Regions from separate parts of the Homo sapiens genome. Here region 2 is linked to region 1. The links come from fine-mapping of genetic effects on gene expression. A gene starts in region 1. The other region holds a variant in brackets. All regions are shown on one strand. Distances are from middle to middle. Region 1 holds the start of SORBS2 (sorbin and SH3 domain containing 2). Region 2 overlaps SORBS2 (sorbin and SH3 domain containing 2).

Region 1 (8,344 bases):
TCTAATGCAATCATATATCACAAGTCTTCTTTATAAAATACAAGTGCAACTCATTTCATTATGCTATCCATGTAGTTAGACATAACTGAGACCTTTAAAAATATTATAAATGACTTAAAATAGAAAATGTTAGAAACAGTACAGGCATATTACAAAATCATGGTTTCTGAAATCTAATTACTATATGCAATTTAAAATAATTAAACATGATTAGTCTTTAAGATGAATAGAACCAATTCCAACTTTAGCTATTATTTAATTATAGCATGCTGTACATTAAAATCAGCTGGAAGATAGCCAAAATAAGCTTTAAAGGACAGCATGATAATTAAGAATTGCTATTTATCTTACTTTTATTAGAAAACTCAATGCTGGAATGAATGCAATAATGTCAAGAAATATGAATTTAAATAATTTCCTAAATATTTTACTTTCTAATCCCAAATATCAGGATATTTTAAACTTCCTCATCAATTCTACTTTATATACAAAAATTCATACAGTATTAATTAGAACTTTTGCTTTCAACACAGATATCTTAAAGACAAGGAATTATGTATTTATAACTTCTTAATAAAACTATGGGTACATTCTTATTTTTGATTGTGGCAGTTTTTTCATAAAAAGGCTACTGAAATCAGGCTTATTTAAAAAATACTAATAATGTTATCTAATATAGAACAGAGGGTAGGAAGTCTCTGTAAACAAACCTATATCTATATCAAGAGTGATTCTAAGAGAATATTCTCTCCCTTACCCAGGTACTCAAGTTGTAGGGTAACATAACTAGTGTAACGTAACTAGTGATTTCCAGTCACCTTTTAGGTTTACTTAGGAACATTAAAAGAAATGCTGCCATTGTAGACTTCATTTCAATTATTTAATCTCTTTCCAGTTCACGACCTTTACTTTCTTCTGGTTTCAGCAAGAAAAACAACTTCATAAGTGTCTTACATTATAATCGGCTACTAATCATCATCAACTCAACATTAGTTTTAAACAGTCTGATTCCATAACAAATTTGTAATAGGGATATTTTCTATACATTTTATAATAGCCATGGATAGAAAAATAGTATTATTTATATACTAAAACATTCAAGTTGTTTTGTTTAAAACATACATTGTAAAATTTTCCCTCGGGAAATTTGGATTTATTATAGGACAGTTGTAGCTTTTATGAAATTGGGATCCTGAAGCCATATTTTCAAATCAGAAAAATGAAAGCCTCATTGTTGTTTTTCAAATGTTTTAAGTTTCCTTGATAAAAGGCAGTATTAGGACTTCTATTTCTAGGTCAAGTCTATATTTACAGTAACTAATAGGAAAATATTGAAGTCTGAGGTTACCAGTACAATGTCTGAATGCAAAATTCTGGACACTGGACAAAGTACTTTAGAATCAGAGGCCAGCAAAGCTCTGGAAGGCTGTGAACAGGGACAAATGCAATATGGTTCAGCAGACAGAAAGTCAGAAGTAAGATTCAGATGTAGCCAAGCAGGGTGGGGGACAGTGAGGGGGGATGTCTAGCTGGACTTGAAGGGCGTATGAAAGCAGCTGTCCTTGCAGGGGAGATTTAAAGGAAATGACTCTTCAGGGGGCACTGCATTTGCAAAAAAAAAAAAAAAAAAAAAAAAAAATCTGATATAGTATGTTTTGGAAATTCCAAAATATTTGATATTGCCAGCAGAAGAGTTGGAAAGTGGCAGAAAATAAGGGTCTAAAAATAGCCATAAGCGAAAGTGCAAAGTCTTGAAGGATAGAGATTATGTCTCTGAACCTGGTTCTCAAAATTGTTGAATTATTAACTATGGAGATGCGCTGTACAGAATTGAACTTAAAATGGTCATCTGTGTATAGCATGTCATCTTAAAAGGTTACTAAAATAGGAAAGAACTTGCACAGGTATAAAGTGTGTGCCATTCCTCCCGTGGGCTAAGGGTCTTGTCTCACTTGGTGCCACTATCAATGCAACAGGCACAGCAGTCGGGTGTGCCCTGGATATTTCTACACCTCATTCTTCTAAAAGCTCCCCCAAGAAAAATTAATAGGAAATCAGGTGCTTGCTGCAGGTCTTTGCACTGTGTCAATTCTAAGAAATCCTTTGGCAGTGTAAAGCTTTGAAGGAAATTAAATTGGAGAGAGATTTTCTCTACCTTTCATTCAGCTCATATAGAATCCCTTACTTAGCTGATATTTTTGCTCATAGAATTGGACTCAGAACTAAGTCTGTTCATTTAGCTTTCCTTTGAATGTTAAACATAATGAAGTACAAGGCCGTCACCTCACCATTTTATCCCCTACAACCCGCATAGGCGTACACTTATCACCAAACGTTTGCACATGTTTGGCTCCACTGAGATTCTTAGTCTCTATCTTTATATTTTGACTATTTTGACATTTAGAACAAAAGTTTGGAAAACTATTCTCCTACTGCTTTAGCATTCTCTTATCTTAGGGCTTATGAACATTGCTACATCTCTGAAACAGGCGGTTCCTGCCCATATCTATCAGTGAAAATTATACTTAAAATTCTGAAGAGACTCATGTCATCCAGATTTTGGAGGAAAAAGGTAGCAAATAAAAATATACTTCTTAGAAGTAGATCTCAGTTACTACTTATTTTAAATTTCACAGTAGATTCCATCTTTTGTAGATAGGGGTTTTGTTCAAAGTTTTTGACCAAACATTTTTATTAAATATTTTCAATAGTATTATAAGTGATCTGACATTTTTGGTAACAAAACAACCAAAGAACTGACTTGAGTAAAGCTGAAATGTTGCTGAACCAGAATCTAATCCTTACTCCGTCATTTTCTTACCAGGGATTTTGATTTGACTGACCAGTTTCAATCCACAGTAACAGCTTTGTTCCTAAGAGACTATAAATCAAGGAAATACTCACTACCAGGCAATTCCTCCTGCAATTCGGGGTCTGTGCTGTTATTATGAAGCAACTGACAGCAAACATTTGCTGCAAGTATGAGCGCAGATTTGGATGAGGTGTGCGGTGTTTTTGGTTTCACTCTTTATCTCTGAAACCTATCTGCTTGTGAGAAAAATTGTGCAAGAAAAGAAGTTTTACTGCCACATACCTCAGCTGTCCTAGAACTCAATGCAGAGGCTTCGCTTCCTTTCTTTCCTTGGATTCTGAGCCGGGGGAGCACAATGGGGGTCTTGTGCTCTGGGCCAGCAAGGCATGCAGATACTCGGAAAGGAGGTGTGAACGGCTTCCAATACCTACACTGTTTGCTTTACAACTACCCCAACTAAATCAAACAGGACACCAAGACACTCAGTCCAGGGTAAGCAAGTACAAAATCCACTGGCTATTATGACCCACATAGAGAACAGAATTCTTCAATTTAAGTGTGTACATAGCTGTGTTAAGAGTTAAATAAATCATTTACGAGGCTTAAAAAGAAATGCTTCTCATGTAGTTCTTTTTCATGTAGTTCTCTGAATACAAGTCAAAGTGCAGGTCACGAAAGAATCCATTGTTCACAAGCGAGAAATGTTGTTGGCTGTGAGGACGGTTCAGAACAAGCCATCGTAGTCTGCTCAAACAGTAAATATTGGTTTTAAAACCCCAAAGCATATCGGTCATGTTTTTTATCTTCCAATTGCTAGAACCAAAATTCACTGAAACAACTCTATGTCTCTGATACTATTTTCTAGAAATGTGTGTGTATGCGTGTGTGTATGTGTCTGTGTATGTTTGTTTGGTAAATCCAAATCACACAATCAACGTAAATCTTTCAGGCTAAGTTTTGCCCCAGTTATTTTTATGCTGTGCTTTCAAAAAGGTCAAAAAAGCTTACCTCTGTCAGTGTACTGGGACGCTCAGGAAGCCCCTTCTCCGCCTCGGCCTCAGCGTGCAGACATATGCCCTGGGAGCCCACAATCTGTTAACAGGAAGCAGGTAAACCCGAGAGCGTCCGCCTGCGTTCCAGTCCAGTGCCCGTCCCAGCACACACCTGCTTTTTCAGACCTGCCGCTCATATGCCACAGCCACGCACAGGACCAGCGTTAGCAGAGTGCAACACCCTCCGTTTGGATCCCTCGTTTTCAGGGTAAGCAGCTAGGGAGCTGCTGAGATAATATTGCAGGGAAAGCTTGCCTTCCCAAGACAAAAACCTTTGCTGCTGCCTGATAGCAGATATGCAGCATTATCACTCTGCATTCCACATTCTCCAATCAGCTAATTGGAACGGCAGTCAACAGCCTGTCCAAAAGGCAGCTTGCAGGCCTGCGTGGCTGTGATCATTGTATACTAACATGCCCATTGCTTCTCTCTTCCCTGAAGAGATGTATAAAAGAGGCTTCTTCCAGGGCGAAGCTCAGCAGAATATGCCACACTGTTTTCCATAAGTAAAATGGCTGGTCCTCTCAGCTCTGCTGCAGACAGCTCATTGGGTTCCACTGGCTTTTCGTAGCCATAGCAACAACCAACAGACAGACTTAGCAAGCATGGCTGATCATGTGCAGCACACTCACACAGCTTGTTAATTTCTTTTCATCAAACTCATCATTTTTTTGAGGAGGGTAGCTTCTGTTATCTTTCTACACATTTCACCGATAGTGCAAGTGCTCCGATTTTTCTGCTCTCCTGAAGAACTCTTTTTTATATGAGCCGGGGCTATGTATGAAATCGAGGAAGTGAAGCCCTATTAGTGGCTATCCAGGTTAATAACATGCAAATCACTTAAGAGACCCTAACTGGAAGCATTGTCAAAACAAGCCCCACCTTCCAGTCATAGAATGAGTGCAGAGAGCTGCAAACGGGAGAGTTACACTTTTTGTTTTTAAATGATAATCTTAGAGCCACTTAATTGAAACAAAACCCTGTGAATTGCTATATAGGGTCAGAATAATAACTAAATCAGGTAGACTATTTTAATAAGATCTTTAAATATCCATTTACTTATGGCTCAACTTATCTGATTACTTTAAGATGCTTTTTATGCAATTTAAAATAGAATTTTTAAAAAATCCTATTGCTTCTACGGCAGAAAATGATTCTTTAACTCAATCTTATTTGTAAATTAAAAATTCTTTTTAAAAAATCCGCACCTAATTAAAAATTCTTTGACTTTAAACATTACCTTCAAGGCAAGAATAGTTTTACTTCCTCAGTAAAATGGATCACATTCCACCCGTCCATAACATTTCACCTCCTCTGGGAATCTACCATGATTAATGCCATGAACAACGTAAATCTTCTGCAGAACCCCCAGGCTTTTCTTCTTTTTCAGGACTCTATCACCAGTCATATTCTATCTGATATATTTCCAAGGCACTGTCCCATTTATTTTTGTTTCTAGCAATCTGTTTCAAATAGTTATGTTAACACTTTGGACTTGTAAATATAGATGTTCTATTTGCTAAGTAGTCATTGATTTAGGATTCCGTCAGTATTGCGTTTCCCTACCCATGTTAACACTCCTGCCTTCAGTATTAATTCCCAAATTTTGACTGCATAGGAATCCTGTGGATGTAGATTTGGGGATGCCCGCTCCCCTTCCTCCCCAACCGGATTCACATTAGGTAGGTCTGAGCCACCCAGGGTCAGCGTATCCATGGAGGACAAGTGGGTGGCGCTTTCCTGCTTGGGAGAGTCCTCACCGCTTCAGATCGCCTCCAGCCAGCCTACCTTTTCTCACTGAAGTTCCCTTCCCTGAAGTTATTTTGCATTTGCTGTTGCTGAGCGTGCCCCTGCCTTCGCCCTCAGCCTCCCATTCTACTATTCACTGCCCACGTTTCAGAATCCTGCATTACACACCATTTCCTTGCCCTGCAGATGCTGCTACTATTAAAAACCTTCTCAATCTGACTGCTCCTCGCCCCAGCACCTTTAACCTCCATCCCAATCTGCCTCCTCTTTTATCTTCCAACACCTGGCCCAAATGGACCACCTCACTCATGACTCTCCCAGGTGGGGTCTGAGCGACCTCTTCTGCGACTCCCCTGTACCGGGGTCCACCTCTGCTATTACAGGCCTTGTCACGCCCTGGGACTTCTTAGCAGTTCTCCTTTTATGTCTGACTCCCAGACTGTTCTATCAACTCTCTGGAAGCCAATCTGGTCCATGTCTTCTTTGCCCTCCATGCTTGGAATATTCTAATTTCTCAATGCCTCTAAATGAGGACCTACGACACTGTATGAATAGGGACTGATGACTGGCTGGTGTGAAATCTGTGTTTTAATTTACTTTTCAACATCACACATTTGTTGACTCATCACTTCAGAAGAACTTCAGTGATTTTGACAAAATGCTGGCATGTTACAAAAGGATATCAAGAAAACTCTAGGTGCACTTGATGTTTTAGGGTGGCTTTTCTTTTCATTGTATCTCTGAAAATGTCTTTATACCCTCACACTTGATTGATTGGTTGGCAAGGCATAAGAATCTCTGGCCGTGGCTCACACCTTTATTCCCAGCACTTTGGGAGGCTGAGGCAGGTGGATCACTTGAGCCCAGGATTTGAGACCAGTCTAGGCAACAGACTGCATCTCTACAAAAAAAAAAAAAATCAAACAAACAAACAATTAGCCAGGCATGGTGGTGCACGCCTGTGGTCCCAGCTACTCGGGAGGCTGAGGAAGGAGGAATGTTTGAGCCTGGGAGGTCGAGGCTGCAGTGAGCTGTGATCACATGACTGCATTCCAGCTTGGCAACAGAGGGAGACTCTGTCTCTGTTTTTAGTAGCAAAACAAACAAACAAACAAACAAACAAATATCTGAAGTCATTTTCCTTTGGAATTTCAAAGGCCTTCATCCTTCTTCTTGTATCTCCTCCTCCCCTATACCTCCAATTCCTGCTCCTCCAAAGAGAACTGGAAGTCCCCCAGTTTGCACTGAACCGGAACTGGGAAGCTGGCAGGAACTGAGATGAATCCCTTTCCCCTCTTTGCCCCGTGGCACGTCTCCCGGCATCTCTACTGGCCTTCACACATCACTCTGCTGCCAGTCTGTTCTTCCAAGGCTCTTGGCTCCTTCGCCTGCTCGAAGCCCCTCCCTTGTAACTTGGTGCACTGAGGCCCATTGGCATTGCTCTGACCTCAGGCCCTGCCCTAGCCCAGGTCCCTGACGTTTATTCTCCTTCCAAACGTGTTTGTTTTAAAATGTGCTAGATACAGATTTCCAAGAGACAAATCTGATTTTTCCAGCCCATCTTTCTGAGTCAAGTGAGATACCACCTATGTGGCCAGCAGCTTTATACATGGGCTGCCCTGTGCCTTGGTCCAATCAGCTATGACAAGGACACTTGGCATTATCTAGTTTTAAAATTTTGCTAATATAATAGGTGCAGAGTAATGGCCCATTATTGTTTGAATGTGTGTTTCTCTAATTACTGACAAATTGAACATCTTTTCATTGTTGATGGTTTTCAGGGTTCCCTCTTCTGTAAATTTTCTGTTCATAGCTTTTGCCTGTTTTCTCTATTGAGATTGTTGTCTTAGTGTGGAATTTTAAACAACGTGGTCATAAAGGTATTTTTTATATATATTTAAACATTATAATTAAATTTGTTATATTATTAAAGGTTATTAAGATATCCACTAACATATAAAGGGAACCCTATAATTCACACTGCTAGTTGTTTTGGTTTTTATTATGAAATGAAAATACAGAATGTGTGTGAAAATCTCCATTCAGAAATTATGTTCAGTATGAAAGCGTAGAATACCACACCATAATATGATTTTCTAAGACAAATATTTGTTTAGAAGGATTTTCAAACAAATATATTATCATCAAAGAATACATATACACACACATATATATGCTCTAATAGTATACGCACACACATATATATGGAGAGAGAGAGAGAGCTATCTATCTATCTAGCTTCTATTTTAAGTTATACCGTATGCACACCTACACATCAATCAATCTACCTATCTATCATCTGTGTATCATCTATGGAAGGCAAACACAAATGTGCAAAATGCTAACACCTGATGAATCTTAAATGAGAATATTTTCAGTTTATTTTACTATTCTTTGCACTTTTCTATAAGTTTGATTTGTTTTCAAGATACAAAGTTTTAAAAAATGAAATAAAATGAGAATAAAAATAGTGTTTAGAATAGACACAGAGTTAAGGTTAAGATTAGTTGATGAAGACATAACTATTTATCAGAGTTGAAACTAAAGAAGTTAATAAGTTATGGAGTAACTAAAGTGATTACTACCATTACTGTTACTCTGAGGAGGCTACTCTGGTAGAGAGTATTGGAAACATTTTGCACTTTCTTGAAACAAGTTTGCTATTTCCCTACATTTACTGCTTCCCTGTATTCTGATCTTAAACCATTTATCCTCTGGTTCGTATTTTGAA
Region 2 (8,344 bases), 110 kb before region 1:
ACTTGATAGTACAGTATTAGGAGAATTCCATTGGCTTATAATGTGCAAATCAAAAGCCAAAAAAATTTCTAATGAAAATAATTCAGATTCTGACTGAGGATCTCATAAGTCAGGCACCTTATCAAAGAGACATGTGAGGAATTAATTAGAATATCCCTATAACACATGTATAGGCAAACTGAATAGCGTTGGAAGAATGGGTCAAGAAATAGGCAAAGCTTGACTCAAATCCCAGTTCTGCCCATTTCTATGCATCCGAACAATTTATACCAATGTCATTATCATCGACTCCCCCGCTAGACAGCAAAGCATCCCCAATCTGGCAAACTGGCATTATTCCCATTCACTAATATTTCAAATATTTTGAAGCAGATCTTTACCTTTGATTGAGTCTTAAGAAGATAATCTAGACTTTCCTGAAAATACATGGGGCATTATTGTATTGCTTTAGATTGAAGCAAGCCATATGGTTTATTAGACTGATTTCTATGGATTTTCCCGTCTCCCAATTGTCCCACACCCAGCTTAGCAACATGTTGGAATTGAAAAGGAATTCTACTTTCCAGGCAGCTTTCTTTCTTCCTTAAAAAGATCCTTTATTTAGCTAAGATTTTCCCCCCCACACATTGCCATGAACAAGAGAAAACCTAAGAAAATAGTTGAATCAAACCCTTGCCTTCTAGCCCAGCTATAGACAATGCTACTGGATCTAAGGGAAAGTGACACTATAAAGGTTTTGACGATTAGCTTTTTTAAAAAAATCATTCTCTTTCCCTTTGACAGCTGATAGCCGAAAGCGATGGCTGAATGGAAAGAGATGTCTATAAAATGTCACATAACAAATTGTGTGACAAATTGCAGAGTGATAACATCCTGATGGCAGCCTACTCCTGCTTAATTCAATAAGGGAAAGTGCCTCTGATTTCCCACCTTGTACTGAGAAGCACACATTTCTATTTTGAGGAGAAAAGCCTTGATCTTTTTAAAGAACCATTTTTTAAAATTTTATGCTTTGCTAAGTTTCTCACTGCTTTTAATTTTAAAATCTTCCGTTTTAATTTTTATATATTGAAATATAAAAATCATCTGATATCAAAAGAATTATGTAATCTAGTCTAGTTTTGCATGTCTCATACTTAGACTTTAAGTAGAAGCAAGCATCAAAGGCTCTGGTAGGGATTGAGATCAACCAACTCATTTTTAGGGTTAGACATTTGAGGATAAGATAAATGGATGCCCCAAGCAGATACTCAAAAGTAGTTCATCTCTCCTGACTCCTAGCAAATAATAGGCATCCTCCTTTAAGGAATCTTAAAACGTCATTTGAAATCAAGATCTTGGCCAGGCGCAGTGGCTCACGCCTGTAATCCCAGCACTTTGGGAGGCCGAGGCAGGAGGGTCACTTGAGGTCAGGAGTTCGAGACCAGCCTGGCCAACATGACGAAACCCCTGCCTCTACTAAAATTCAAAAATTAGCCGGGCATGGTGGCACATGCCTGTAGTCCCAGCTACGTGGGAGGCTGAGGCAGGAGAATGGCTTGAAGCTGGGAGGTGGAGGTTGCAGTGAGTCGAAGGTTGCAGTGAGCCGAGATCGCACCATTGCACTCCAGCCTGGGTGACAGAGCAAGACTCCATCTCAAAAAAATGAAACAAAACAAAACAAAACACAAAACAGAAAAACAACATAGGAAATCAAGCTCTTTCCCTTTAAAATATTACAGTACCCTGCTTAATTAAGTACTGAATCATATGAGGCAGGGGTTAGGGAAAAGAACAAAATATGAGAAGACGGTGTGGTAGAAGGCAAAACTGTTTGATAAATAAAATAAGAACTGTTAACATAGAACCATATGTTTCTTCCTCTAAGACTAATAGGAAAACAGTGGTTGATTATGACAAGGATTCCTTTTGCCCAATCACAGCACAAGTCCAAATGGAAAGTGTTAATCAGGTCTACTAAACCCAAAGCATATTAGACCTCCTTGGTCTAAGCCTAGACCAATAGCCATTGATTTTTTTTTTCTGAAATCCTTAGAATTTTCAGTTAGTAAGTATATCTATTTTAAATTATTTTCATGGTAATGTTACGTGGTGAAAGTATTACAGTGAAATAAGCCTGCTTATTGTTAATTCACTGTTCTTAAAAAGCCACACTTTTCTTCTGATTGAATACACCTGTTTCCTGAGCACCTGAAATAACATTTATATACTTTAGCAATGTCAAGGTTTGTCAGAATTTTTGACAGAATATACTGTCAGAATTATTACAAATTCATGTTTATATGTGTCTCAGATATGCAATGGTGAAATCCCACTTGCTATGTGGAATTTAAATTTTGGGGCAGGGGAAAATTTGCTCTAATTTGATCTTATAGTCTTAAAATTTAAGTAATACATTACTTACAAAGTTTATCCAGAATGAAATGTACCTTTTTTTTTTTTTTTTTTTTGAGACAGAGTCTCGCTCTGTTGGCCAGGGTGGAGTGCAGTGGTGCAATCTCGGCTCACCGCAGCCTCCACCTCCCAGGTTCGAGCAATTCTCCTGCCTCATCCTGCAGAGTAGCTGGGGTTACCGGTGTGTGCCATCATGCCAGGCTAATTGTAGTATTTTTAGTAGAAATGGGGTTTCACCATGTTGGCCACACTGGTCTCGAACTCTTGACCTCAGGTAATCTGCCCGCCTTGGTCTCCCAAAGTGCTGGGATTATGGGTGTGAGCCTCCATGCCTGGCCAGAATGTATCTTAAATTGTACATCTTAAGGCAGTTTGATTCATTTTAGAAAATTTGAACGAGAAAATAATAAGCCAATGGAGGAAAAATATCATCTGAAGAAATTTTGAATGCATTAAAAGTTGGAAACTTTTGATATTTGTGTTGAACAGTGGATAGTTTATTACATTATTCTTTGGGATCTAATAAAAGTAGACAATAAAGACAGATATCTTCCATTTTAATGGAAATGTATTATTCAGAAATGTATTATTAATATTTATATACTGCTGCTCCATTGTTATTCAGACATTTGAAAAAATTCTTTACATTTCTCTATGTACTAAATGTACAAGTGTTAAGCAGAATCATAGGTGAATAAAAGGTACTCAATTTGAGGAGTACCCTGTTCCGACTGTGTCTGCAACATTTTTATTTTAGGGAAAAACAAAGTGGTGTGTTTATTGATTCTGCAGAAGGCATACACACGAGAGGGGAATAGGTAATAAGTAGAAAGATGATCTTGACAGGCTGAATTAAATTTGGCTAAACTAAATTTCATGATTAGGTTGAAGAGACTGGCTTTTCAAAAATTTATATGGAATAAGTCTAAGGGCTTTAATGCAATTGTTGAAAAATATAATTAAATCAATGTCTAAATGAACAGTGGTTTCATGAATCAAGGAAGATTGGGCTCCAGCTGCCTCACTTTTAAAGTGTCCACATGAGTCTGTGCGTGAGTCAGGCTGGCATGAACTTGAGTCTCTAGGCAGGCTTTGGAGGCTGTGCTGGGTGGGGGGAGGGTCACAGAACGATATGGTAGAGACACTATGGTGAGTTTCCAGGTGACTACCAGCAGCAACAGGAAAAGTTACTGACATGTACTTGAGGTTTATTTTTTTCTTTCATCTCGTGGAACTCATCCCAGTGGCCCTTAGGGTTAATGCTCTTAAATATACCAAATTTATGCTTTAAATTGACAAGAAGATGTATAAATAACAGTTGCAGCTAGAAGCTTCAATATTCCCTCAAGATGTACCTGAATTTAAGAAACATAATATCTAAATAAGACTGTTTCTCAGTGCTGGGTTTTTAACCATCTGGTTCACAATTGTCATCAGAAAGAATGAAAACAAGTCCATCCTAGAAATAAGGGGTTTAAGACTTCAGAACTGTACAACAAAATGGGATGTGGTGTCTATTGCCCTTTTGTTCAGCAAAATGCCAACTCAGATGACCTCACTTCTAGTTCTTACCCCCCACATATGTTCCCAGCATTCTTCATTTTTCATACCTAATATAGTCCTTCATGCTCTGCCACTATTTAAAGCTAAAACTTTCACTCAATCCACCAAAAATAGGCAAGAAAAACAACATACAAATACAAATTTATATTCCACAGTTA[C/T]ACAGTGGAGAACAGTGAAGCTTATTTGAACAAAGTTTTTGTTGTTTCATAATACTCTAACTTATTTGACGTACTGGCTAAAGGTAGAAATGATCAGAACACTTTTTGAGATTGTTAGTTGGCATATTTTAACATATGTAGTGAAATCCTACTCAGTCTGATCTTTATTAGCCATTTCTCCCCCTTTTATCTACAGAAATAAACTCTCAACACTCTTTCTTTTATCTTGGACTTTTGCCACTCTTGGAAAAGCAGAAAAATTTCCTTTTGACTTCCCAACTACACGAACTCTTTCAGGGCAGCCTGGTTTTAGCTCCAGGGTAGTCTGCCATGATGCTCAGGGCCATGGATCACCTTACAGATCCAACCTGGGCCTCTTGTTCGCATCGACTCTACCCTGGGACTCAGCCTGTTCTCCTTCAGGTCCACAGGTAGAGAATGTCTGTGTGGACATCTTCATGGACAGAGATACCCACTGACTTCTGATCTGATACCTACTGACTTCATTTCCATTTCTTCTTTTATAATGGAGCGTAAAAGCACTTTGTCATCTGTGCTGCAGCATTTGGTAAAGGAAATCCAGAACCCACGCTGGGACCACATGCATTTACATTGATTCTAGTTAATTATGTTTGAGTGGAGTGATCGCTTTTCTATAGTACATAGAAAATGTTAACATGAACTATTATTATTGGGATGTTGGCTGTCTGCCATTCCTAACACAGAGCAGAGGGTAAGAAAATGTCACTCATATTGGGAGAGGGCAAACAATAATGGATGGGCCAAAAAGTTAGCAAATTTCTTTCTTTTTTTTTTTTTTAGACGGAGTCTTGCTCTGTTGCCAGGCTGGAGTGCAAGTGGCGTGATCTCAGCTCACTGCAACCTCTGTCTCCCAGGTTCAAGTGATTCCCCTGCCTCAGCCTCCTGAGTAGCTGGGACTACAGGCACGTGCCAGCACGCCCAGCTAATTTTTTGTATTTTAGTAGAGACGGGGTTTCACCATGTTGGCCAGGATGGTCTAGATCTCCTGACCTCCTGATCCACCCACCTCGGCCTCCCAAAGTGCTAGGATTACAGGTGTGAGCCACTGTGCTGGGCCGCAAATTTCTTTTTTGTGGGAGAAGCCACTTTAGAAGTATATATCTACATACCTTGTCTAAGTCAATGTGTTGCTATAAAGGAATACCTGAGGCTGGGTAATCTATACAGAAAAGAGGGTTATTTGGCTCTCGGTTCTGCAGCCTGCACGGGACGCATGGCACTGACATTTGCTTGGGTTTTAGAGAGGCCTCATGATGCTTCCACTCCTGGTGGAGGGGAGAAGGTTAAAGGGAGCCGGCGTGCAGAGATCCCATGGCGAGAGCAGAAGCAAGAGAGAGCAGGAAGGTGCCAGGCTCTTTTCAACAATCAGCTCTCAAGGGAGCTCCCCCAGGAATGAATAGAGCAAGAACTCACTCACTCTCCCTCTGCCAGGGAGGACACTAATCTATTCATGAAGTATCTGGTCCCAAGACTCAAACACCTCCCATTAAGCCCCATCTCCAATTGGGGATCGAATTTCAACATGAGATTTGGAGGAATCAAATATCCAGACCATAGCACACATCAATAGCGAGGAAGTGGCAGAGTCAGAGTTCAACAACCTATGTTTTAGGGGACTTCCAGGTATGTGCTCTTAATGTTACATGACTTTTTTTTTTTTTATTGTACTAAAGTGGGAGTCGGTGTTAAGCCTTGTGTGGGAAGGTATGCTTGGGCAAATCACTTCACTTCGATGAGCCTGAGTTTTAAAGTTTATAACATGAAAGACTTGATTTAAAATATAAAAGCACATAAGGGACTTTTATGGTTTGAAATTTTGCTAAATCTAGGAAAGGTATATTCAACCAACAAACATTTGTTGACCTTTAATGTGCAAACCACTATGCTACTGTCATGATTGTACATATCAAGCAGAAACTAACTGGAAGCCAATATTTAATGACTCATTCACATATTAAAATTCAGAAAAAGGAGATGGTTAAAGACCCGTGCTTCTGATAGCATCATGATGAGATGGGGTACATATTAACACATGTCCAAGCCACCATCCTGACAACCAAGCTGTCTCCCTCTTTGTTGTCTGCTTTACTTAACTCCAGATATAAGATCTAGAGAATTGTTTATATATTACATGTCTTTCTATATTATCTCCAGTGCCCTACCCTTGAGCTTCTCAATTTTAGAATTTGATCGTTCCTAAAATAGAATCCATTTTATAAATCTGCACCAGAAGAAACAGACAGAACTTCAGTCCATCAATTTTCATTAATTTTTAAAGCTTTTTTCATGAGTAGTGTGGTAGGTACATTGGAGGTAACAAGAATCATTGATTCTTTTTTTATTCTGTTAGAATTTACAGTAGAGGAGAACTTCAAAACAGGTATCTCAATCATGGAGGCAGCTTGGCATTCCAAATATTACGTTTTTGCATAGCTCCTATTTTAAAGAGTAAAAGTCTATTGGCTTTTGAAGGAAAAAAAACTAAAAGATCTAAGCAGACTGTACTCCTAGCCAATATTCTCATCACATTTTTCTTACTGGCTGAATCAGTCATGCCATAACTTGCTAAATGACAATAGCATGGGAAGTACAATGACAATTTGAGTTATTTTTCATGTGGATGGTTGTTGTTCTGTGCTTTGATTACTGTTGAGAAATGTCGGCATCAGGCTCACAAACAATTGCCAAGGTCCTATGACCCACAAAAACTTCAATCAGCCTGTTCCCATGTTCAGATGTTTTGGAATTTGGATGTTTACTTTACATAAATTATGATTTAATATTATGGCTATTTGTAAGGCTACTATGTGATAATTGTATCATTAACTTCAAATGATTAAGAAAAGCAATCTGAATTAGGGAGAAGTGAGTTATAAAGTGCTTGTGAAAAAAGGCAACGTATTTTCCTTCAAAAATACAGATTAACTCTAGGTCAAGGCAATAACACCTAAAATAAATCCTCCAGGGTCCTAGTTTAATGAATACATAAGAATGATTTGTACTTCTAACATCAATTCATATGGAATGAATGCTTCTAAAAAGGTTTATTTTGTGTAGTATAAGTATGCTAGCACTTTGCTTAAGAATCTAGCTTTTAATATTATCAAAAGTAAAGACAGCCTAGACTCTCACTGAATTACCTCAATTTCTAAATTGGTATGTCTAAGTTACGATTCAGACATAATTCATATTTATTTCCCATTTCATGTTGGAGTCAGGATATTCGCTTCTCCCCAAACCTCACCCCATTTTTCCAGTATTCCTCACCTCAGAGAATGCTATCATTCATTCATTATTTTTTACAATTTTATTTATTTATTTTTTTGAAACAGAGTCTCACTCTGTCGCCCAGGCTGGAGTGCAGTGGCGTGATCTCGGCTCACTGCAACCTCTGCCTCCCAGGTTCAAGCTCTTCTCCTGCCTCAGCCTCCTGAGCAGCTGGGATCGCAGGCATGCACCATCACACCTGGCTAATTTTTGCACTTTTAGTAGAGATGGGGTTTCACCATGTTGGCTAGGCTAGTCTCGAGTTCCTGACCTCAGGTGATCCACCCCCCTCGGCCTCCCAAAGTGCTGGGATTACAGGCGTGAGCCACCGCACCTGGCCCATTCATTCATTATTCAATTCATTAATCAAAAAGTTTGAGAGCCCATTCTACTCCACAAATTACCCTGGATGTTCCCTCTCCCTCAACTCTCCATGTTTTGAGAAATAAGACAAGAAACATTCAGCTCTGGGAAGGGCAGCATGCTTCTATCTCAGTCCCACAGTTCATTTGCCCAAGAGACTTGGGCATGAAAGATAAGCATTTCTAGTCCTTTTGATTTTGCACAGGTCAGATATAGGTTAGGCACAGGTTAACACAGAGTGGGCAGATGGGAGTCTCTGACCAGCTCATGCGGTGCAGGAGTTATACTGTTGCTTCACTTTCCCATAACAGCAATGGATCCGAAATGGATGATGATGTTCCAGTGTCACACAGGTAGGGGCAGCATGGCAGATAAACGTGAGAGAAAAAGCAGTGTGTGCATGCACATGTGCACATACACAAACACATGTGCCCATGCACAGGCACACGTACACATGCTGTTGTGTTCCCCACCCAGTTGTCTCAAAGGCCACGAGTTTGTGGATTTTATCTTCCTAGTTCAGTACAGGACTACCCAGAAGTTGGTCGATATTAAAG

Evidence for each region. PIP is the estimated chance that this variant, and not a neighbour inherited with it, causes the effect.
Region 2: its variant is fine-mapped to the expression of SORBS2 in aorta (GTEx, PIP 0.99).

The regions. Positions count from the first base shown.
Region 1 is chr4:185,807,844-185,816,187 of GRCh38, forward strand. It overlaps SORBS2 (sorbin and SH3 domain containing 2), which reads right to left and starts at 4,351. Exons shown (of 27, transcript NM_001395207.1): 1 at 3,821-4,351.
Region 2 is chr4:185,696,855-185,705,198 of GRCh38, forward strand. All of the region lies in intron 3 of SORBS2 (sorbin and SH3 domain containing 2), which reads right to left. Among named protein-coding and RNA genes, the nearest start is that of SORBS2, 110 kb to the right of the region's middle. The variant C/T (reference allele first, on the strand shown) is at 4,116.